Linked DNA regions of Homo sapiens: regions 2 and 3 are each linked to region 1. Evidence: fine-mapped expression QTL. A gene starts in region 1. Each other region holds a variant in brackets. All regions are shown on one strand. Distances are between the middles of the regions.

Region 1 (8,275 bases):
AATTCATCAGTCACTGTGCATAGACTATCATGAACAGCAACTAAGAGCGGTGAGTTGGATGTTTGCAGTTTCTGTGTGGTAGCATCAACCAAAGCCATGTTCAAATCTTTTTTTAAGTCTCAATAACCTTTCCAATAACTAATTATGCTTCCCTTTAGACATCGAAAGGGAAGGCAGAAAAAATAAAAATTACATAAAGTATGGCAAAATGAAATAACTGCATTGGAGGTCACTTATTAAATACAATCAGCACACCAATTTCAATGTCAAGATCCAATTATTTTAGGAGAAATAAGAGTCGACTTATTATTTCATTCATTATTCCAGGTATTCAACCTGGAATACCCTCTCTAAAATGTTACACGAGCAAAAAATTAACTTCTTGTTCTTCAGGGTATTGAAGGGGAGGGAGGTATCTGTTTTAGCAGCTTAGCCCACCCTGACTTGCACAGCTAGTACTTCATAGTTTCTCTAGGAAAAAAAAAAAAAAGCCCAAGAATATACGCCTAAAATAACAAACAGGAACTGACTTTAACAGGTTGATACATTCAGAAAAACATTCAACTTCTGAAATTCAGAAAATTTTATGACTCAGAGTGCCATATTTTATCTTTGTACTAAAAAGAATTTGCTAAGAAAAGAATAAACAAATACTTGAGGATACTTTTAAATCTGGGCTTCATCTTTAAATCTTTCGGTCATCCTTGGCTTCCTTTGGTCCAGGCCCTCTTCACCTCCTTACTGGCTGCCTCCCACAGGTCTTCTTGCCTCCTTTCTCTCTGCCAAGCTCTCCTGTACACCATGCTGCTGACACAATTTCCTTTCAGCATGTTCTGTTCCTGCTCAGAAACTTTCAACTCCTTCCTAATATTTAGGGCTACATTCTCAATTCCTTGATTAGATACAATGCATACAGCAAACAGGCCTCAACAGGCCTCAAACATGTCTTCTTTCTTTACTATTTTACTTCTGCTAAGAAGATAGATCTATTTACTGTAGAAGGAGCAAAATCGACCATTTGTTGTCCATCTTGGATTCATGTCATTAAACAACAGACCAGAGCATGGTGAAGCTAGAAAGGACCTTGGAAGCTAGGTTCAATTCTTCCATTTTATAAATGAGGAGCTCAGGCTCAGGTAGTTTGAGGGAGCTATACAAAGTCACAAAGGCAAGAGACTTCCAGGGAAACTCCTGACCACTCCAAACTTCAGTCATTTCTCCCACCTTTAAAAATTGCAAGTTACTTTCTGTTCTGATCCTAGGGCACTGCTTACATAGTGCATATAAGATTTCTGTCATCAGTATCCAAAGGGGGCAGGGGGAATCTCAACCCATTCATGGCTATTTATTTTACATTTCTGGGTTTTTGTCCATAGGAAAACAGTGATATGCTATTCTAGTTTATTCATAGCAGCTAGCACAGTGCTATCTTCACAGTAGGTGCTAAACATTTTAAAATGTTGCTTATTTAATAAGTGACAAGAATATCAATTATATTTCTTCATAAAAGAAAGGAATAACAATTTATTTAAACATTTTATATAATTAAAACTTTTCAGCTAGGAGCAGCAGCTTGCACCTGTAATCCCAACTACTTGGGAAGCTGAGGTGGGAGGGCAGCTTGAGCCCAGGAGTTTGAGGCCGCAGTGAGCTACGTTTGCTTCCCCGCACTCCAGCCTCAGTGACAGAGTGAAACCCCGACTCTTAAAAAAAAAAAAAAAATTCCCGATTCCTGAGTCTGCTCTCCTACAAATCAGACCATTGACACACTTTGGCTAGAGGTTTTATGACTATGAGCTTATTCATTTTGTTTCCTGAAATTTTCCTTTAAAAGAAATAAATTTACATACATACTCATATGAAATATATATTTTATTTCTCTATATTCTGTTATTGAGTTTATTCAAACAAGGTTAGGGGTGTTATCAAATGCTTAAACTGAGTTAAAAGGATCATGCAACTTACCATTATTTATTAACTTAAAAGGAACTTCTCTCTCACTTCAGTGAATATTTTTTAAATGCACATTTTAAATGGTGTAAAATAACATAATTAATCCAGTTTTGAATCTTAAAAAGTGTTAGTGTTTTATTAATTTACTCACACAGGTTATCCGAAAAGGATCTTCTGTTCCCCATCATGCTTTTAATAAAATTAACTAGTATAAGAATCTCCATAAACGAAGTACCAAAATGTTTACATTTATATTTCTGAAGCGCTAATAACATGACAAATACATGCTGCACATTTTATGTCTTAACTCACTTAATTCTCCCAAAGAGTCAAGTCCTAAGCGTTATGATCATCTCTTTAAAAAAAAAAAAAATCCAAAAATTGGGTATCAGAGAGGATAAGTAACTTGCTCAAGGTCGTACAGCTAATGAGTGGTGGAACTGGGATTTCAGTGTAGGCCTGACCTGGTTTTAATCACACTGCTGTAACAACACCTGGATTGTTTTTGTGCAAGACTTTCAAAACTGACAGAAGGAGAAGAACAAGAAAAACTCAACTGAGAATGGAAACTCTTAAAAATATAGATTAAAATAATTTGGAGGGTAAAAGCAAATGAAATACTTTCCCAAGGATACCTCTGACAAAATTTGTAAAAAGAGAATTTCCTCTGGTACTAGAAAATTCATGTCCTCTTACTGGGCACTGGCAAATTTGAAAATTCCTCTTCTGCCTTTTGTAGAGCTGGGCGCACTGGGCTCAGACACATTTATCAGCTGCTATCTGGTGACTTCATCATTTTGGTGGAATTTCAAAGAACATTAATTTAGTTATTTAAAAACATACTTCAAATTTTTTTAAAACAATGTAATCTTTCCTTTGCAACTGTTTTTAGAAAAATGTCTAGAATTAGAAACGGCCAAATAACTTCACGATATTATTTTATTCTATTTGTGGTGTTCTTAACAGCTCCCACTCCTCAAAACAACCACACACATCACCAAAAAAATGCACCAATGACAATCTGCCACACTCCTCCCACAACTTGACATTATATGCACTGTACTGCTACCCTTTTCAGCCCGGGACAATGGAGTGTCCAGGCAAGAAGGAAACCACGGGTGACTATAACATTTTCCTTTAGATTTTGTGACATTGGCAAATATGCAGTTGCAACTACCATCAGTTACACAAGTAATGTTCATTTTTTCCTCTACAAGAAAAAAAAAAACAAAACCCAGATGTACTCTTTCACTCTAATTAGGCTTTCACTAATTTTCAGTAAAAAAGACTATGGTGACATATCCTGAAGAAGGAGGTATCCAATAAATATGCACCAACAAAAGAGCAGTGGAATTCCGCGCTGGGTACCGGAAATAGGGCAGCACTAGCGGAGGTGGGGAATGCGCTTCCAAGGGAGGCGGAACGCAGAGGGGATGCGAGATGGAGCCCGGGGAGCTGCCGCAGCGGGCGATGGCCCCGGCCGGCGCCGGCCGTTCTGGTTCGTGCATCTGCCGCTGCGGGTCGCGCGCTCTTACCTCGCAGCCCGCGAACCAGCCTCTCCGCCCAGGCCACTCGGGGCGGCTGCCCTTCCAGGGGGAGGTGGCGATGCAGCGGGTCCCCGCCGCCGACTGGGCTGGGGCACGGCGGGCCCTGGTCCTCTCGCCGGCGCCGCCTCCCGCTCGGGTGGCCCGCGCCGTGGTAGCCCCCAAGCCCCCGGCTCCGCGCGCCCACGGAGCTCACGGCCGAGGAGGCGGCCGACCTCCGGCTGCCCGGGCGCCACTCTACGTCCATCTCCACCACCATTCCGCCTTCTTCCCCTTCCACCTCCTCCTCCTCCTCCTCGGCCTCGAAGCCGGGGTTATCGCGGCTCCACGCCTGCCGGGAGCACGACGAGAGCGGAGGAGAAGGGGAGGCCGCGGCTCCGGCCGGGGGGTCCCGCGCGGCCGCCTGCCGGATGCGCTGCATCTCGATCTCCAGGCCCCGCTGCTCGCAGAGGCCGCCCGGGGCGGCGAGGCTGGCGCCCACGGCCGCGCAGCCAGCCATCAGCCGGCCCGGGTCCGGCGCGCGGGGCGCGGGCGGCCGCTTGGCGTCCCCGGGCTGCTGAGGCTGCACGCGACTGGAGTTCACCATCGCGGTCACTGGCGTCCGGCGCGCGGGTGCGCGGCGCCGCGCTCGGCGCTGTGCGCCTCAGGAGCCATGTTCCTTTCTTCCCGGCGCCCGCCGCCGCCTGCTCCCCGCCCCCGACCTCCCCGCGGTCCCGCGTCCTCTCGCCCGCCCCTTTGGCCCGCCTCCCTCTGGCCTCGCCCCGCCTCGCCCATCCGCCGCGGCGCGCTGAGCGGGGAGGTGCGAGGGAGCCGCCCCCGCGGTCTGCGCGCTCGCCCGGCGGCTCCCGAGTCCGCGTTCCAAGTGGAACCGGAGCCCGGGCGCGGGCGCCCACGTTCCATTCCCGGGAAGGCCTGGGAAGGGAGGGAATCGCTCACCCGCCAGCCCGCCTGCAGGGAAAGGGCTCCTGGAGCTGTCGATGCCTGCCCGACGCTGAGATAACTCTTGGGTCCCAGTTATCCACCAGCCACTTCTGCCTCGATTCACCAAAGGGCAGGGAAAGAACCTTTTGGTGAGATGGTGTGAATTAGCGACATCCAGCCTGAGCTGAAGTCTCCAGCGGGTCAAAGAAATCTTTCCATTTGCAAACTACCAAGGCTGACTTGCTGTGCATTTGGCGGGCCTCCTGCCCCTGATTCTGCTGGTTTGGAGATGCTTTCTCGCTCTTTGGTTGGCTTCTGTCTCCACACATTGTGGGGATCCCAGGGATTCGTCATAGGACTCTCGGATCGCTGGTGCCTCCACTGTGATCTCCGGTCTCCCTGCGGCCAGCACTGACTTCTAGCAACAGAATCCTGCATGAGGGCCTAGGCACAGAACTTTATTTCCACTCTTCTGAACACATCTAATGTGATGCTCTGCAATTGTCTGAAATTTATCCTACCCTAAGTCATTATCTTGTCCCCTTCTCTGGAACCTGCTTCACTTCCCGTATCCCAAGGTGAGGTTTGGGGCTTCGCTGTCCTCCTCACTTCCCAGGCCACTCTTCTTCATGGAAGCCTCGCGGTTTACCCTCCACCGCCTACACCTTATCTTCTTGTTACTTTTGCCCCACAGATATCACCCTGATATGATCTCTGTTTCTCACTCCTGCTGGCTTGATCTTATGTCTTGCATTATTCCGCATTAGAACAATTGATCCCTGTCAACTCCCATCTCTATTCTCCACGTCGGTGTCCTCACTATTTCCAGGTTATATTGCAGAACCAAAGCTGCTTATTTGTCACGTTGATGCTTAGACACCTCTGTGGGCTTCTGGCAGCTGAAAGGATAAAATTTAATTTCTGTGGTTTGGTTTAGTAAATTCTCATAATCTGCTCCTGTATTTGTTTGTTAGGGCTGCCATAACAAAGTACCAGAGACTGGGTGGCTTAACAGAAATTTATTTGCTCACCTTGTCTCTACAAAAAATACAAAAATTAGCCAGGCTTTGCGGTGTGTGCCTTTGGTCCCAGCTATTAGGGACGCTGAGGTGGGAGGATCGCTTGAGCCCGGGAGGCAGAGGATGTAGTGAGCCAAGATCGGGCCACTGCACTCCAAGTGACAGAGTGAGACTCTGTCTCATAAAGAAAGAAAGAGAGAGAGAGAAGAAAGAAAAAAAGAAGGAAGGAAGGAAAAAGAAAAGAAAAATTGTATTTTCTCACGAGGTGTTGGCAGAGTTGGTTTCTTCTGAGGCCTCTCTCCTTGGCTTGCAGATGGCCCCGCTTTTGTGTCCTCACGCCGTCTTCCCTCTTCCCTCTGTATGCGTCTGTGTCCTAATTGTCTATTCTTATACATCATATTGGATTAGGGCCTACCCTCATGACCTTGTTTTCACTTCATTACTTCTGTAAAGACCCTGTCTCCAAGTATGGTCATGTTCTGAGGTAATGGGGGTTAGGACTTCAACACAGAAATTTTTGGGGGGACACAATTTAGCTTTAACAGCTCTTAATGTACTCCTCTAGCATGGCATCCCATGCCATCCATCCACCTTAATGAATTATTCATTTGTTCTCTAGGCACATATAACATGCTGCTAATATTTAGGTAATTATGGCTACCTATTACCTGATCCTGCAGTTTATTAATTTAGATATTCATGTTCTTCTCTTAACTGTGAGCTTCTCAAAGGCAAGACTGGTGGGTCTGGAGCACAGCCCTAGCTCATGCTATTCATCAGTTCATTCTGAAGACATTTCCTGTGCCCTGAATTAAGGTCTGGGCATGTAGAGAGGAGTATGATACAGCCTTGGCCCTCAAGAGGAGACAGACCAAAAATGAGAGATTACCAAGTGGGTTAAGGGTTATGGTGCCTGTCATCCAAGGAACTTCTGAAGCTGAAGATGTCCTGAATAGCACCAGCAGCACTGCAGAGTCGAAGGATTCTTACAGACACATTCCAACAGAGGAGAGCCAGGCCTGGAAAGAGAATGCAGAATCTGAGCCAAAGGGTCCTCTGGAGAATAGGCCTAGTACAATGTTTTCAAATTGTGATCAGAAGATCTCCAGCATCACTTGCAGCTCTTGCTAAAAATATAGATACTGGGTCCACATTCCAACCTTATTGACTCAAAATCTTCCGGATTCCAGTCCTGAAATTCTGAATCTTCACAGGGGATTCTCAGGCATCCAAAGTTTGAGAAGCACCAATGTGTTCCAAATGGAAGAGGTTTCATAAATATTTCCCCCACATTTCTATACTTCACTGTTAGCACTAGTGAGACAATCATCTGGAATCCCAGACTTAGAAGAAAATTCAGTGGTCTTTGAGTCAGGTTACTCTATGCTTGTGCCTGCAGTCACTAATTCGTTGTAAGGACCCTGGAGCCAGACTGCCTGGATTCTGATTTACTCACTACTTCCTAGCTGTGTGACCTTGGGAAAGTCACTTTATCTCCTTGTACCACCAAAGATGAGGATAATGATAATGCCTACCTCATAGGGTTGTTGTGAGGATTAGGTGAATTAATACATGTGTTTTAGTCCATTCGGGCTGCTATAAAAAATATCATGTAGTGGGTGGCTTATAAACGATGAACCTTTATTTCTTACAGTTCTGGAAGCTGGACGGTCCAAGATCATGCTGCCAGCAGATTTGTGGTCTGGTGAGGGTCTACTTTCTGGTTCATAGACTGCACCTCCTAGCTGTGTCTTATGGTAGAAGGGGCAAAAGAGCTCCCTTGAGCTGCTTCTCTAAGGGCACTAATCCCATTTGTGAGGGCTCCAGCCCCATGATGTAATCACCTCTCAGAGGCCCCAGCTCCTTATACCATCACTTTGAAGGTTAGGATTTCAATGTATGAATTATGGGGGGGGAACACAAACACCCAGACCATAGCATGTGGAACACCGTCTGACATGTACGTGCTAATAGTGTTAGAAGTAGTCTTTGCTCTTATATCTTAATTATGATAACTGTTTTCATCTATGATAATTGCTTTTGTGGATGTCTTTGTTAGTGTTAGAAGTGGTCTTAGCTCTTATATCTTAATTATGATAACTATTTTCATCTATTATAATTGCTTTTGTGGATGTCTTTGTTCCAGCTAGGCTGTGAGTTTCTGGAGGGCTCCATGCCAATCCTAGAGGCTTCTATAACAAATACTTACTAAACACCTACTATATGCCAGGCACAATACTAGGAGAGACGGCAATTCATTAAATAGGGGAAAAGCCTAGCTCTCATAGAGGTGAGCTTATATTTTACAGGGTTTGAGGGGATTTAGAAGAGAGATTGCCCAGGCTGGCATGGGTAGGGAAGGTAGGTAGGGCCAGATCATAGGAAGCCTCAGATGTGTGTTAAGGAGTACAGACTCTCTATAGTTAATGATAACATAAATAGGCCTTTTTTTTTTCTTTCTAGAGTGTCAGTTCCTATTTAAAACAAAATCTGAAATCTTCCTGAAACTATATCCTCACCCTTAAAAGAATTCAAATTGATTGGAAATGTGTCTGCACATACATAATTCAGAGTTATATGTGTGCTTACCCAAAATTTTCTTTACAAATTATTGCAAGAAATGTAATCATTAAAAATTCGCAGCAATTTTTGTGTAATACCACTTAAATAGCATTTGGTCCATTGCACCCTAAATCTTACATTTTGGAGTTTCAATATTAATTTCAATCTTAATTTTCATAAACCCAACACCAGCCATCTAATATATTTCCTGTTCAAATACTTATTCATTCCTTCTGGCTTACTAAGGTTCCCTTTTGTGCTTTTATGTTAATTTGT
Region 2 (8,266 bases), 30 kb after region 1:
CAGTGTCATCTACATCATCAGAGTCGTTCGAGTCAATGGAGTCCTGGCTGTCCACATGGTCATCATCATCTTCATCATCCATATCATCCATGTGGTCATGGCTTTCGTTGGACTTACTTGGAAGGGTCTGAAAATTAAGATGGCCGGGAAAATTAATATATGGGTTTTTATTTTCCCTTAGCCTTTATAGCACATTAGTCTTTTACTATCTTTCTTTTTATTTAGTTTCAGAATCTTTGCATTCACAGTACATACCATGGCTTTTAGGAGCTAAAGTGAGCATCTTCCAATTTCTCTTTTAACACAGGGATTAATAACATTCTGAAGAACATTTCTTACTTTGCAACAGAAATTATTTTTATAGATATTTTCAAGCCAAATATGTGAGTATAATCTTCATGTCAATAACATTGTTTTTCCTTATACATATTAAACATTATTTACTAAATTCAATGATGTAATAGATACAGATACATAATTATGAGACTGGTTTTTTTATTTGAAATGAGATTTATCAAAAGAGAAGAGTATCCATATTTTAATGTGTGTACTAAAATCTATAACCACTTTCCTATTAACATGGATAATTGAAAGGTGACTCTGTTATGCATGTGTGTATAAACTGCAGCTCAAAACTGCCCATTGAATTAAACAACTAATGTCTATCAAATTTCAAATTGACAAATATATTGGGTAATTTATCTAACTTGCTTTAATATTCTTAGTATATTCAAATTGAATCTTAAGGAAAATAAATTTACTCTTTGCTTAGCAAATATATGAATGATCCTAATAAAAAGAATAGTTGTCAAATAAACTATTTTATTAGGAAAGAAAACTTTCCTAAAGGCAAAATCTTAGCTTTGATATGCATTAATTAGATGCTTATTAGATATTAGATATCTACAAAATACCTTAAATAAATTGCAAGCAGATTAATGTTTCAAATAACAGGCATTAATAAACATCTTCTGTAATGCTAAACTTATCCGAGGAAACCTAGTATTTCTGATATTTAGTAAATACATGTTTTATTTATGAGCAAGTTTTAGACTGCCAATTAGCTGGAAAACTTGCTAATGAAATTTCATCAGAAGAGAATCCAGGCAATGCCTTCTTTCATCTCTTCAAGGCATGATGGGCCTCTGATTGAAAATGAGAACTTACCTCTTGTTTAAAGTCATTGGTTTCTTCAGAGGACACAGCATTCTGAAGAAGGAATGGCACGTGTTAGTGCGCATCACACATGCCTAGCTTTTTTATTCAAAAGTTAACCTTTTTAATCCAAAGCAGTTTTTATTTTTCAGCCTCATCTGTGGATGGCTTAACACAGAGAGAAGCCAACATGGCAGATCAGTCAATGTCCTAAGCACATGTTTGCCAGCAGGCAGGCAGGATTCATCTGAGCAGCCCAAATGGCCTGAGTGTGGCTATCTTTCATCACTGTAGTTTAATTATGAGAAGTTTAAAAATACCTGTGGGGCTAGGAGATTCTGCTTCTGAGATGGGTCAGGGTTTAGCCATGTGGCCACAGCATCTGGGTATTTGTTGTAAAGCTACAAAAAAGTTGCATGTTTATCATTATTAAAAAAAGAAATGTAGGGATGAATGGAAAAAACAACCATTCTTCACTAGTCTTGATGGAAGCATATAGTCACCCGGACCCTTAGGTACCTTTTTGTAATTTTTTTTTTTTTGCAGATTCATTTAACAAACTCTTATGTAGCACTTACTGTGGGCTAGGCACTCTTTCAAATTGCTTTACAAATATGAACTCATTTGATCCTTTCATTCCCCTATGAGATAGGTATCATTATTATTCCCACCTTACAGATCAGAAAACTCAGCCACAGTGCAGTTAAGTGGTAGGAAATGGCAGAGCCAGGCAGGGTTCAAACGCAGGCAAACTAGCTCTTAACACCGAACTTCACACTGTGCTTTCTTTTTGTATGTTTGCTGGCTGAATTTTCCTCTCAGATAAAGCACATCTAAACCAGAAGTGACCTTAATTACTGTTAATCTTCATTGTGTCCAGTCCATGGAACAAGAAGGAACTCTCTAAGACTGTGCTAATTCAGTATCCTCTAACCACATGGAGCTATTTAAATTTAAGTTAATTAAAATGAAATGGCTAGGCACGGTGGCTCACCCCTGTAATCCCAGCACTTTGGGAGGCCGAGGCAGGCGGATCACGAGGTCAGGAGATCGAGAACATCCTGGCTAACACAGTGAAACCCCGTTTCTACTAAAAAAAATAAAAATAAAAAAAAATAGCCGGGCGTGGTGGCAGGCACCTGTACCCCCAGCTACTGGGGAGGCTGAGGCAAGAGAATGGCGTGAACCCAGGAGGCAGAGCTTGCAGTGAGCCAAGATTGCGCCACTGCACTCCAGCCTGGGTGACAGAGCAAGACTCCATCTCAAAAAAAAAAAAAAAAAAAAAGAAGATAAAAATTCAGTTCCTCAGTTGCACTAGCCCACATTTTGAGTGCTCAATAGCCATATGTATCTTATCAGCCAATGTAGAAATATAATATTAAAATCATTGCACAAAAGTTCTATTGCTGTAAGGTGCCAAAGATGTAAATGAAATGGATTTTTCTTTAGCCAAGTTATTTATCTGGAAAATACTGATAATATGCTACTGCAAAGGAGTGGAAATTGCTCTGAGTAAGTATCATCTGATCTGCTGAATCATCCAGGGCCAATCATTACATTTCCCTGTCACTGAGAATGAGAACTCTGGGGGTTGCACAGAGTTCCTTCTGCAGCCACCTAAGGGGTGGATGAGTAGAGAGAGAACCAGTCAGAAGTACTTGGAGTTTCTCTCATGGCTGGCTCTAACCAGAGGAGCTTAGTATTGGGCTTCTCCGAAAGGTTTTGCTGAAAGAAGGGGTTCCTTGCTTTAAGAAGATGAAAAAACAGCCGGGCGCAGTGGCTCACGCCTGTAATCCCAGCACTTTGGGAGGCCAAGGAGGGTGGATCACGAGGTCAGGAGATGGAGACCATCCTGGCTAACACGGTGAAACCCCGTCTCTACTAAAAATACAAAAAATTATCCGGGCGTGGTGGCGGGCGCCTGTAGTCCCAGCTACTCAGGAGAATGGGGTGAACCTGGGAGGCGGAGCTTGCAGTGAGCCGAGATCACACCACTGCACTCCAGCCTGGGCGACGGAGCGAGACTCCGTCTCAAAAAAAAAAAAAAAAAAAAAAAAAGAAGGCGGAAAAACAGTGAGACCAGATGAGTTCAGAGTTTTTCTCTTCACTTTTTCATATCTATCTATCTATTCTCATGACACATGTAATACAGGCTCAGAGAGAATGGATGTATAAGTTACATTTATAATTTTTAAAAACTAATATGAAGAAAATAAAGGTAAGCAAAATGAATAGACTAAAAACCACCCAGTAATCCTAACACTCACAGATAACCAGTGTGTATTTTCAGGCATATATCCTTAGAGACTTCCCCAATTTTTTACTAGCTTTAAGTTTCTGGGATTCTAGAAGGCTGAGCCTTGAGCTCTTCACGTATTTCTTAAATTGTTATAGCTCCACGTGCCTTCTAAAATGCATCTTTGCCATATTTTCGTTTATTAAAAAGACGCTAATTCTTGCCTCAAATAGTATGACCTCTATCTTCTCTGGAGATGTTAATTTTTCTGGTTTATTATTAGGATTCAACACCTGTATTTTCAAATCAGTTGAAAAACAGACACACACACCCCTCCACACACAAACGAACACAGAATACTTCTTTTAATGTCTTCATTAAGCAGTCTAATTGCAGTGACCCCCAAGGCAGCTCTATTTTG[G/A]CCTTTATTCTGTTCAACTGGAATTGAACTCTGTGTGCCTTTTTGTCCAAGCTTCTGGGGACAATGCCCATTTGTTGTTTGGCTGGCACAGTTTCATCTGTTGTGGAGGGGTAGGTACATCTTTAGTGCTGGTCAAATAATTATAATAAAGAGTTTGGTTGGTCTTATGTTTGGTTAGAAAATGTGATCTAACATCAGCTGACAATCACAATAGATACAAACAGCACACATAGACTTTCTTTTCACAATGGGCTTCTCAGCTAATATCTCAGACAATATTGTGAATATTATGGTCATACAAACAGTTCTGACTAATATCCAATGTGAATTTTAAACTTAGCAATCCACTAAACAAAGCAAAAGCTGGAATTTTCTGCTTTTAGATCAGTATGTGGACTAATGGAAAAAAAGTCACACAACTTCATATAACTTATCTTACATGCGATAACTCATCATACATGCCTAGATATTATTATATTTAAAATATCTGGGTTGGTTTTATAAACTTATATTTATTAAAAACTATACTGTGCTTGGTACTGGCCTAGATTCATAGCAGGCAGTCAATCAATACTTGTAAACCAATGGATTTGACTGAGAAGATAAGTAATATCGCAGCAAATACGTTTCTTGCACCTCTCGCCATAATTGAGTAAATGATTTAACTATATAAAAACATAAAAGATGCTTACCTGCTTTTCCTCAGAACTTCCAGAATCAGCCTGTTTAACCTTAGAAACAGAAAAGATGAAGAAAGATTACAAGAATGTCCTCCTAGCACATGGAAGCACACAATTCAGTTATTTTCAGGAATTTTCTTTAAGATGCAACTGTACTCACTGGTATGGCACAGGTGATGCCTAGGAGGCAAAAGCAAATCACTGCAATTCTCATGGTAGTGAGTTTTCCTGCAAAATATTTCATAAGGAATAGCTGACATCTTCATAGGTTACAACAGTGATACCTTTTTATACTACCACATTACAAAATGATCACAAATAAAATATATTTTCTATAGAATCTTTTCTACTTCTTAGAGATGCCTTTTCTTTTTAGTATTATAGTCTTTCAAGTTAATATTTATATTGCCACCTATTATCCATCTTTCACTATTAGGCAAGGGAAAGGGAAATTTTGCAAGTCTGTATTTATTCAACTTTAAAATTTAGAGTTCCAGAAATTATACCATTACTACCTTATATATCTAGCTCTCTAAACCTACAAACAGATCAACAGTAACTTAATTATATTAATAAGCTAGTATGGGAATATTTTTTAGAGAAGAAAAAACTCACAGAAAAAAATGAAAAAAATTTGCTTTATCCATTTTTCCAACATGTACTTTAAATGTGACTTTTAGCTTAATTATCAAGTAGGTGCTACTTAGGTGAAATCAAACTATCTCTGAAATTTGTTATTTAAGTAAGATGTTCTAAAAATTTGAAATTCAAAGGAAAACATTGAAAATAGCCAACAGCTTTTCTATTTGTAATAATAAGCCTACACAGTGTCATACAGGTATCTTGGTGAATATTTTAACAGCTAAATTTAGCAGTGGCATATTCAGAAAGGGTTTTCTTCCCCTTAAAAGTGAGATACATCATTTAAAAAATAGCATTGTAATTGGTTTAATTAGCATAAAAGATCCCTTTTCTTTTAAATTCCTGCACAGTCACCCACTGAAAATTATATAGGTATAATTATTCCAAAGGGGAATTTAATTTTACTATTTTCTGATTAGCATCGGTGGTTTCCGTTCTTTTGAGGACCCAGTGGAAGTATTTTTAAGTTTTAAATTTGATTGGCATTCAAAATATCTAGACACCTTTGTTCCAGGAGACCTGCAATGTATCTAATCTGCTTATTAAAAAGGCTAGAAAATTTAAGTCTGTTTAACAGCATTACAATTAAAAATATTTTTCCTTAGAATTTGGACTTCCCCATGAAATTCAGCTGAATGCACAACCCAGTAGCAAACTGAAGCTGTACCTTGGTCGGCGTTTGGCTGAGAAGGCTGCAACTGGCCTGAGACGAGTCTGGTCCCGACGATGCTGTGCTCTGCCTCCTCCTGCTGCTGCTGACAACCAAGCCCTCCCAGAATTTAAATGCTGCTGCAGACATCCTCCACCAACACAGGGAGGCGGAGAGATTGTGTCATGAGGTTTTCTGCCACTGCCCAGCCCACCTGCTCCCACACTTCCCCCTCTGGTTTTGTGGTTAAAACAAAAAAAAACAAAAACGCACACACACAATCTACAGTTAAAACATTACTTATGTACAATATCATTAACTAGCTTTTTCATTTACGGGATGGGCATTCAGCATCCAGGAAGAGCACTTAGGGATCCCATGAAAAAGGGAGAAAGTAGGGAAAAACATTAATGTAAAATTAAATAGAATGGATTTTTGTTTCTTTCGGTTTAAGTAACATAAAGGTAATATCTGCAACCACTCTTGCCTGTATGATTGTACTTATTGAAGAGCCAGAAGGCTATTGTTCAAGCCTGCAAGGAGTTCAGAAAACTTGCCTCTGTCCTTTACTACTCAAGCTTAGCTTTGTGATTTCGAGTATGCAGTAGCTTGTTACTTAGACAAATGGCACTAGTGACATTAAAATATAAAATTCTATATGAAATAGAAGAATGGTAATTTATTCTAGATGTTGCAGAAGTAAAGCAGTTTCTGACTGAGAGCAGGATGACTGCTTGAGAGGGCTGCTTCAGGAGCCAGACCGTGGTTCTGAATTCCGCTGTGTCACTGCTGACCTGTGCAACCTTGGGCAAATCGCCCAGCCTACCTATCCTTGTTCCCTCATCCATGAAATGCAATACTATTACCTAGGTCATGGGGTTTTTGAGGGGTTTAAATGAATTAGTATGTTAAACTAGCAATGCTTAGCACATATTAGATGCAAATGCTCTGCGTATCTTAAGGACTATATGTGTGTTAACTATTATGAAATTTTTAAGAGGGGCAGGCAGTCACGAATTGTAATGTCCTTTAAAAGAACAGGTTATTAAAATGAGAGTAGACGTAAGATCTTTAAATTGTATGCATCAATAAGGAAATTTTGCACATTTCTAAAGGAACAGATTCGATTTTGGAATCATCTTTTTTTCTAGTTTTTCTCCCAAGGTATGTAAAGTAGGCCACTTAAAAAGAAAAACATTTTTAAAAATTTCTGTATTAAAAAACACTTTACTAGGTATTTAAAAGGTGTCTGAATGAAAGAAAATTACAGGGAAAGTCCGAATATTAGAGCAGAATTCAGGGATAGCAGAGCTCTGGGTCCTTTTAAAATATTTAATATTGCCTTGAGATTACTTATCTTCATTTGCTTTCTCAGTTGTGAAATGCAGATTGCACTATTTATTTACCTTACACCTTTATTGTTAAGACTTGTGTGTAATTGAGATGAAAAATAAATGGTCCTATTTATTATTAGGTTGCTGCAAAAGTAATTGTGGTTTTTATTAGTCCTAAAGTGTCAGCTTCCTTTTGCCAAATATTACTTTTAATATAAATATAGATTAAATAATGTCTTGCAGTGATAGTGTATAGCTAATTCATAGGTTTCATGAACATTTGGTAGGGGGAAATATGTCTCCCTTAAATTGGATGTATTCCAGATGAATTGATATGATTGGTTTGTAGGTAATAAGCACCCATTTTAATAAGTAAGATGACGACTATCTCTATAAAATAGAAAGCACACAGATTATAAAGTTGCAAAATAGACTTCTTTTTTCTGCTTCTAAAAACTATTTTTTTCCTTTAAACATACCCGCATAAGCGTGTCATGTTGTCAATTTAGTGGAGGGAAGTCTGAAAATTCTAAAAACAACAAAATTTCCACAGGATTTACTGTAGTTTACTCTGTGCCCACGGGAATGATTCAATATGAAGCTAGAATTAATTATAGGAATAGATTATGCTGGAGCCCAGCCATCTTGAGATGAACCATACGACCCTTTACAGGACTCTTCTGGTCATAGCTCCGCAGTGCCACACGATGGCAGCATTTCTGAAAAAAGATTTCAGACCACAATCTGGTTCTACCAATTTTCTTAATTCCAGCGGGATAGAACACTCCTGTATTTAATGACAGGACTATATACAGCTGTGGAGCTCTCCATTTCTTGGAATGCCAGGTGAGGAAATATTTCCCAACAATGACCCGCTATGCAATCAGGGACAGAGACCCAGAGAACCAAAGCGTTCTTGTTTTGCTCTGTTGTTGCCTTAGGCAATCCCAAGTTGACACTATTGTCTCCTTCCCGACTTCTACACTCATTCAAAAAGTTCCTAGTCCCAAGGCCTCTCTCAGAGAAAAGGCTTGTGAATTCACGGGTAAAGAATGTGTCTGGGATGCTTTGGAGTTGAGAAGATAAAGTGATTTATAATGGGAGGCAATTCTGTAAAGTAGGAAATGGATGCTGCGTCATTCTGACTAT
Region 3 (8,000 bases), 44 kb before region 1:
TCTGAAAATAATGCAGCATAATGGCGATGGCTGCACAACACTGTGAATGTACTTAATGCCACTGAATTGTACACTTAAGCATGGTTAAAACAGTAGGTTTTATGCTATCTACAATTAAAAAAAAAAAAAAAAAGGCTGAGTGCAGTGGCTCACATCTATAATCCCGGCACTTTGGAAGACTGAGGCAGGAGGATCGCTTGAGCCCATGAGTTTAAGATCAGCCTGGGCAATATGGCAAGATTCTGTTTCATTAGAAAATAAAAATAAATTAGTCAGGTGTGGTGGCACACACCTGTGGTTTCAGCTACTCAGGAGGCTGAGGTGGGAGGGTTGCTTGAGCCTGGGAGGTCGAGGCTGCCGTGAACTGTGACTAGTGATGCTTTCCCCCCAAAAAGGATTAAAGTAAAAGGGAGGGAAAAAACTTCACACAAATAAAAATTAATTATAAAACCCCCCAGGAAATTCTTGTTGCATAATATTAACTGTCATTTATTGTGCATCAGTTATATGTGGAGGGCTTTATGTACATTGCCTCAAATCTCTGCAATGTCTGAAATATTGGCATTCTATCCCCAGGAGTCAGCTGGGGCCTGCAGCCAGCTGCCCTGCCTGAACTGCAAAGCCTGCTCTGCCTGACTGCAAAGAAATATTGAGCATGTTGGTAGATAGTGAACCCTGCTGGTAGACAGTGAACCCTGCAAAGCCATATTGAGCATGTTGGTAGATAAGGCACTGAGGATGGCTGCCCAGATTGTGTAGCTCTAAGTAGAAGCCTCAGTGGAAGAGCACATGATGAGATATTAGAAGTAGAGTCATGAGGCCGGGCGTGGTGGCTCAAGCCTGTAATCCCAGCACTTTGGGAGGCCGAGGTGGGTGGATCACGAGGTCAGGAGATCGAGACCATCCTGGCTAACACGGTGAAACCCCGTCTCTACTAAAAATATAAAAAATTAGCCGGGCGTGGTGGCAGCCGCCTGTAGTCCCAGCTACTCGGGAGGCTGAGGCAGGAGAATGGCGTGAACCCAGGAGACGGAGGTTGCAGTGAGCTAAGATTGTGCCACTGCACTCCAGCCTGGGCGACAGAGCAAGACTCCGTCCCAAAAAAAAAAAAAAAAAAAAAAGTAGAGTCATGATCCCTGCCTTAAAGACCTTAATGATAAAGTATCGAGGGGCAAGACATTTCCAAGAGAAGCACTAAATAAAACACATCAGCCTGAGACACATGTTGTAGGAAAATCTCTAGAAGTTTAAAGGTCTGTTACACATTGTTACTGGCCACAGTGAAATATTTCTTGAGGATTGCTGTAATCACATTACTTAATCATTACTTAATACAATCCCAATTCATTTGAGATCTTTTTTTTTTTTTTTTGAGACGAAGTGCTGCTCTGTTGCCCAGGCTGGAGTGCAGTGGCATGATTCAGCTCACCGCAACCTCTGCTTCCTGGGTTCAAGCAATTCTCCTGCCTCAGATTCCCAAGTAGCTGGGATCATAGGCACGTGCCACCACACCCAGCTAATTTTTTTTTTTTGTATTTTTAGTAGGGACAGGGTTTCACCATGTTGGCCAGGCTGGTCTCAAACCCGACGTCAGGTGATCTGCCCGCCTCAGCCTCCCAAAGTGCGTGAGCCACTGTGCCCAGCTGAGATCTTGATTATTATTACTATCTTGATTATTATTACTATCTTGATTATTATTATTAAACTAATAATAATCAAGGAAACTTCAGTAATTCTCAGGCAGCACCTGCCATCCTTTCACCAGCACAGGCTCTGACTGTGCTATCCAAACATGTGTGGATATCTAAATTCAAATTTAAATTAAGTAAGATTAAATACAATTAAAAATTCAGTCCCTTGGTCCTACTAGCCACATGTTAAGTGTTCCATGCCTATACATGGTTAGTGGCTACTGTCTAGGACAATGAAAATATAGAACATTTCCATCACCACAGAACATTCTTATTACTATTATTATTTTTGCTGTTTGATTATTATTACTATGTTATGATCAAGGTTTTGTGCTTTAGTGATGGTTTCTCTTGAACAAGCATGTCAATAAATAAATAGCATGAGAAATACAGGATAAAGTCTATGCATTTTTTTTTTTTTTTTGAGACAGGGTCTCACTCTGTTGCCCAGGCTGGAGTGCAGCGGTGCGATCTTGGCTCACTGCACCCTCCGCCTTCTGGATTCAAGCAATCCTCCCGCCTAAGCCTCCTAAGTAGCTAGGACTACAGGCACGTGCCACCACCCCCAGCTAATTTTTGTATTTTTAGTAGAGATGAGGTTTTGCCATGTTGCCCAGGCTGGTATCAGACTCCTGGGCTCAGGGGACCTATCTCGGCCTCCCAAAATGCTGGAATTACAGGCATGAGCCACTGCGCCTGGTCCAAGTCTATGTCTTGTGATAAACCTCAGGTCTTCTAGGTATGAATACCAACTCAGAAAAGTACATAACGGGTAAGTACCTTCCAGAACAGTGCTTTTCAAGAGAACGTTCTGTGATGATGGAAATGTTCTACATTTCCACTGTCCTAGACAGTAGCCATTGAACACTTAATGTGTGGCCAGTAGGACCAAGGAACTGCGTTTTTAATTGTATTTAAGCTTAACTAATTTAAATTTGAATTTAAATAGGCACATGTGGCTAGTACTTACTGTCTGGACAGCACAATCAGAGCCTGTGCTGGTGACCGAATGGCAGCTGCTGCCTGAGAATTATTGAAATTTCCTGCATCTCCAGAATTGAGGCTTGTTGTATATGAAATGTCATAACCTTTCACACACATGGAAATGCACATTATATCTTGGGACAATAAGGAAAATAGTGAGCAAGGAACTATTTGGAAGCAGTGTCTGTTCCAACCTTAATTCTAGGTAAAGCTTCCCTTACAGCCTCTACCTGGAAAAGAGGCGATCCCTTCTAGCAAGCATTTCCAAGTGCAGCAACTCTCCCCTTCCCTCCACCTGCTCCTTCCCTCTCTTTCTCTAAGTTCCTTTTCCTTCACCTGTTCATCTCATCTGTTAGCAGCCTGGGGCCCCAGGCCCAGCTAACACACTGAAAGGCCTCTTACTGCATTTGTTAAACAAAACCTATAGGGACTGATCTTGCACTAATTCAGATAGCAGAAGTATGTCATTGACAGTGAGAGGAATGATCACATGAGTCTCAATAGTTTACTTTATATGTAAAATATGAGGCCTGGCACGGTGGCTCATGCCTGTAATCCCAGCACTTTGGGAGGCTGAGGTGGGAGGATTGCTTGAACCCAGGAGTTCAAAACCAGCCTGGGCAACATAATGAGACCTTGTCTCTACGAAAAAATTTAAAAATTAGCCGGGTATGGTGGCACATGCCTGTAGTCCCAGTGACTTCGGAGGATAAGGTGGGAGGATCGCTTGGGCCTGGGAAGTCGAGGCTGCAATGAGCTGTAATCATACCACTGCACTCCAGCCTGGGTGACAGAGTGAGACCCTGTCTCAAAGTAAATATTGAGCAGCTTTGGCTGGTCACTTGAATTTCAAATTCAAGTATTCCATGATTTTGTGGAACTCATTTTTTTTAAAGAAAATATTATTTAAAATGTAGAACATGAAATTTATAAATTACCTTAATCCAGACAAAAAATACTGTGACAGCAGCTATATTGTTGAACTGTATCTGCCAATATGCCAGATGCTCAAAGTTGGGGAAAGTATTTTGATCTTCCAGAAACTGTAGTAGCACCTCCACATTTGATGTTCTGTATATGTTAATTCCTATAGCTACCACTGACAGCTGAAAAGCAAAATATTTATATTTTATTACAGTGTTTTAGAAATATGAAACTTACCTTAATATGACTAGTATATTTTTCTTCACCAATGTATTAATTATAAGGGCTCACCATTATACTTACCCGATGTCATTCTTA[A/G]AAGTCACTCACTCAAATGGAAAGTGTTAAGCCCTGCCATAAAATAAGTAAAACAGTATATTGCTTGCATTTCCTTAGTTCGGAATAGAAACTCAACGAAGGCATGCATGCATGTGTGTGCACATATACATTACACACACATACATGCATACACAGAAGAGATCACACTATAACAGACTCAAACTCAAAGAGGAATGCTTTCTGTTTTTTCTGCCACCTTCATTTTAATCACTTTCCACCCTTTTGCTTTCTTGCCTTCATCCTGCTGTTTTTATTTGTGATTTTTAAATTTAAAATTTTTCGGTTTCTCTGCATTCTCCAATTGCCAGCCATTCTTTGCTCTGTTTAACAAAAATATAGTAGATGTCTATGTATACAGCACTGTGCAAGGGCTAAGAGGAATAAACAGAAGTAAACTGCATAAATCCTGCCCTCGAGACTCAAGAGCAGATAAACACATGAAGTTAAATAATACAAAAAACTACTAAAGAGTTGGTATCACACAACATAAAGTCAAGAGGGACAAAAGATATCCTAAAAATGAGTGCCCATGAGAACAAAGCATGAGCTTGGGCTTGAAAGACAGTGGGAATGATGAATACAGAGGGCTCAAGAAGGCCTGCAGTGGGAATATATGAGCCAAGGGCTTCTCTCTTGCTCATTTCTGTCCCTTAACTCATGACCCTACAACTTTCCACATATGCTTTGGTTCTAAGCTTTACAATCAGATCCAAGGGGACACTGCCCCCTCCTTGGCATCCATCACCACTAAATGTAGACAGTGCTAGGGGTTAGTCATAACAACCTGGCCCCACCAGGGGGTCTGAATCTGCAGCAGGTGGGCTGTGGCAGGTGCTGCGATCTTTGCTGTCCATTCTCTCTTCTTAGGAATCATGGCCAGAGACCACTTCATTAGCCCTCCCTTCCTGAGATGACCATAGAGATCATGGTCCCACTGATTCTCATAGCAAAGACCAGCTTGGTTGCTGATCACAGCTAAAAAGCCAACCTCACCATCTTCCTTTCCTTCCTTCTCTGTGAAGGATTTCCAGAGCCAATCTTGTATTTTTGTGTTGGTGGTGGGAATGATGAACACAGCAGACTCAAGAAGGCCTGCAGTGGGAATAGGCTTCTCCTGAGATGAGGAGCTCATCTCAGCTAATACATGTAGAAAAACATTTGGGTTGGTGGACTGGATCCAATGGTAACTCTTTACCCAACTCTCAATAGGTATAATTTGTTATGCAGTCCAGTTGTTTTTACTCTGCACAGGACAAATGTTTATAAAATAATGAAGAAGATGGTCATTTATACAACATCAATGTCTTTGAAACCTTTCCTTCCAAATAGGGAATGAAAGATGAGGAAAGAGATTTTGTGAGCATTTGCATTGTTACATCACTCCTGAGTTTTCTGTGGGATTCTCATCCCTATCTACAAAAGAACTTTCTCTCCATACCAGAAAATTGGGAGGGCAGAGATTTGGGTGATTTTGTTCATTCCTGTATCCCCAGTGCCTAGAACAGTGGCAAGTACATAGTAGGTGCTCAGAAAACACTCGCTGAATAAATGAATTAGTCGGGCCAGGCGCGGTGGTTCACGCCTGTAATCCCAGCACTTTGGGAGGCTGAGGTGGGCGGATCACGAGGTCAGGAGATCGAGACCATCCTGGCTAACTCGGTGAAACCCTGTCTCTACTAAAAATACAAAAAATTAGCTGGGCATGGTGGCAGGCACCTGTAGTCCCAGCTACTCAGGAGGCTGAGGAGGGAGAATGGCGTGAACCCGGGAGGCAGAGCTTGCAGTGAGCCGAGATGGTGCCACTGTACTCCAGTCTGGGTGACAGAGCAAGACTCCATCTCAAAAAAAAAAAAAAAAAAAAAAATTTACCCTGTACAACCTAGCAAGTGGTCAATAAATTATTTGAGTTTAAATTCCTTAATAGTCTTCTTTTTTTCAAGTAATTCTTCTAGTTTTGAAAGACTATTGCTCAGGACAAATGGCTGACTGATGCAGCCTGTGTACTTCAGAACATATGTTGGGGAAAGAAAAAAGGAAAATAAAGAAAATTTCAAAGTGATTTCAAGATGTGATTGTATTTATATTAAGAATATAATTTCTTTTCAGGTTTTGGGTAAGCATAAGCAAATTTTGGCTAGATAAAACAAAAAGCGTTGGGTCTTTCCACTGGTTTGAAGGTCCAGTGGAGCACAGGGTGTGTTTTGTGGGTGAGCAGAAGGCATGCCCTCACTTCTACACTTGGTCAGCAAAAGTTTCAAAGGACAAGTGAGATTCCAGTAGCCCTTCCTTGTTCTTTATAAACAAAAAGCACACTGTCTGAATTGTTGTCTGGCAGTATTAAGTGTTGTTTAAAAAAAAAATTGAAAAACACAGTGAAGCAAGTTTTCAAAGAAACACTTGCAAAATGCTGTGGCTGTTGAGCCAAAGAGACAATTTCCATGATATCATTGCCTTTCTTCCTATTGGTCGCCAAAGCAGGTGCAAGGCAATTCACTGGGCTATGGGAAGAAAATGTTACAACTTCTAGGTAGGTGGTAAGAAAGTTTTGGAATTCTATTTGTATTAACTTTTATTCCAATCTTTAAAATTCTATGTATGTGTATGTTTTACGGATGTACCTGTTACACCAAAGTAGGCACACAATTTACAAATAAAGATAATAAATTAGGGTGTGTAGTAGTCAAAGCTTTCACTGATAGGTGTGTATGATCAAAAAGGGTGAATACCACTGACTAGTCTTTTGTTGATATTGAGTTCTTTGGTTAAAATATAAAAAGGAAGTCTGTTCTTAATTAGCATATCATACTTACCTTTCTACCATTATTTCAATGGCCTAAACATAAATAAATCCATATAAGCCAAGAGGCAGGGTTTGCATCCTTTTAGCTCCAAACAATAATTGTGTTCTGGAATAATTGTCAATGTATATGGCCTGCACTCTGCCATCAATCCGAACAGAAATATTCTGAAAAATTATTTCCAGTATTATCGTCTCTCCTGTTTCCTTAAATGCTAAAATTCTTGTGTAACTCTGTTCATTATTAATACATTGAGAATTTGGGGATCAAGGGTTTACCTTGATTTGTGTGATGTTGTATGGCCATCGTAAAAGACGGGATGCACTTCTAACTGCATCACGGTCTGATGGGGTCAACACCATCTATTCTACAGGAATTTTTACTTTAAGTAAAAACTCTAAAGTGCACATATCCATGGCTTGAGAGGCAGTGGCAGAGTAGTGAAGAGGGTTAGTATGAGGAACAAATGAGCTTCTGTACCATGAAAAGCACCCGGAAATGCCTAACACAGAAGCTTCTAAAGTGTTAGCCATTATTATTATTACTATTACAATTATTATTGCTGCTAATATAGTTATTGCCATGCAATATATGGCCATGTAGTTCTTTTTTATGCTTTAAGTGTTCTTTCACTCACATATGAATAATATATTTTCCATATTTTATCAACTATTAATAATTCTAGTGGGGAATAGTTTAATAATGACTTGATCTAAATACTCCACAAAGGCCAAATGAATTTTTAGGAGTGGGATGAGGGAAAGAATAACTCTCATAAGGAGGGCTAACAGAAGAGAGAATGCTAATAGGGTAGTGCATCATTTACTGAGATTTCAGAAGGTAATGGCTATCATAGGACAGTGGGAAGGAAAGACATAGAATAATACATGGTACACCTATGCCAAGCAAAGCTTGTAAGCATCTAATAATTAAGCATGTTGTTATATGCTTAAATGTACAACTGGACTTAGCGAAATGTTACCTGTTATTGCTGAAGGGAGAAAAGCTTGTAAAAATTCTTTTATACACTGAAACCACAGGAAGGAAGTGACGGATGCTTAATTAAGTGATAAGGATGAAGGGAAAACATCTTGAAAAAAATCTTAGAAGTTATAATAGAGTCAAGAGCAGACACAGAATTTACATGGTGTCATGGTCTTGATTATGACTCTGCCTTTGATTTATTTTTTATTTTTATTTTTTAGAGATGGGGTCTCACTATGTTGCCCAGGCTGGTATCAAACTCCTGATCTCAAGTGATCCT

What was found.
Region 2: its variant is fine-mapped to the expression of PKD2 in anterior cingulate cortex (GTEx, PIP 0.98). The same link has a PIP of 0.9 or more in prefrontal cortex and spinal cord.
Region 3: its variant is fine-mapped to the expression of PKD2 in whole blood (TOPMed, PIP above 0.99). The same link has a PIP of 0.9 or more in esophagus muscle, pituitary and spleen.

What each region holds. Positions count from the first base shown.
Region 1 is chr4:88,003,542-88,011,816 of GRCh38, reverse strand. It overlaps PKD2 (polycystin 2, transient receptor potential cation channel), which reads right to left and starts at 4,182. Exons shown (of 15, transcript NM_000297.4): 1 at 3,489-4,182. The coding sequence starts at 4,083. RefSeq lists silencers at 3,300-3,439, 3,490-4,419.
Region 2 is chr4:87,973,336-87,981,601 of GRCh38, reverse strand. SPP1 (secreted phosphoprotein 1) reads right to left here and starts at 5,888. Exons shown (of 7, transcript NM_001040058.2): 1 at 5,802-5,888; 2 at 4,653-4,720; 3 at 4,505-4,543; 4 at 1,476-1,556; 5 at 1,168-1,209; 6 at 1-127. The coding sequence starts at 4,706. It overlaps LOC124900730 (a long non-coding RNA gene), which reads left to right and starts at 7,833. Exons shown (of 2, transcript XR_007058172.1): 1 at 7,833-7,963. RefSeq lists cis regulatory regions at 5,893-5,902, 5,937-5,946, 6,121-6,136, 6,574-6,582, 6,649-6,657 and 1 more, enhancers at 5,915-5,985, 5,748-6,247, 6,610-6,630 and promoters at 5,802-6,015, 5,805-6,892, 5,892-8,134. The variant G/A (reference allele first, on the strand shown) is at 3,813.
Region 3 is chr4:88,047,772-88,055,771 of GRCh38, reverse strand. PKD2 (polycystin 2, transient receptor potential cation channel) reads right to left here. Exons shown (of 15, transcript NM_000297.4): 7 at 3,614-3,781. Among named protein-coding and RNA genes, the nearest start is that of PKD2, 44 kb to the right of the region's middle. The variant A/G (reference allele first, on the strand shown) is at 3,918.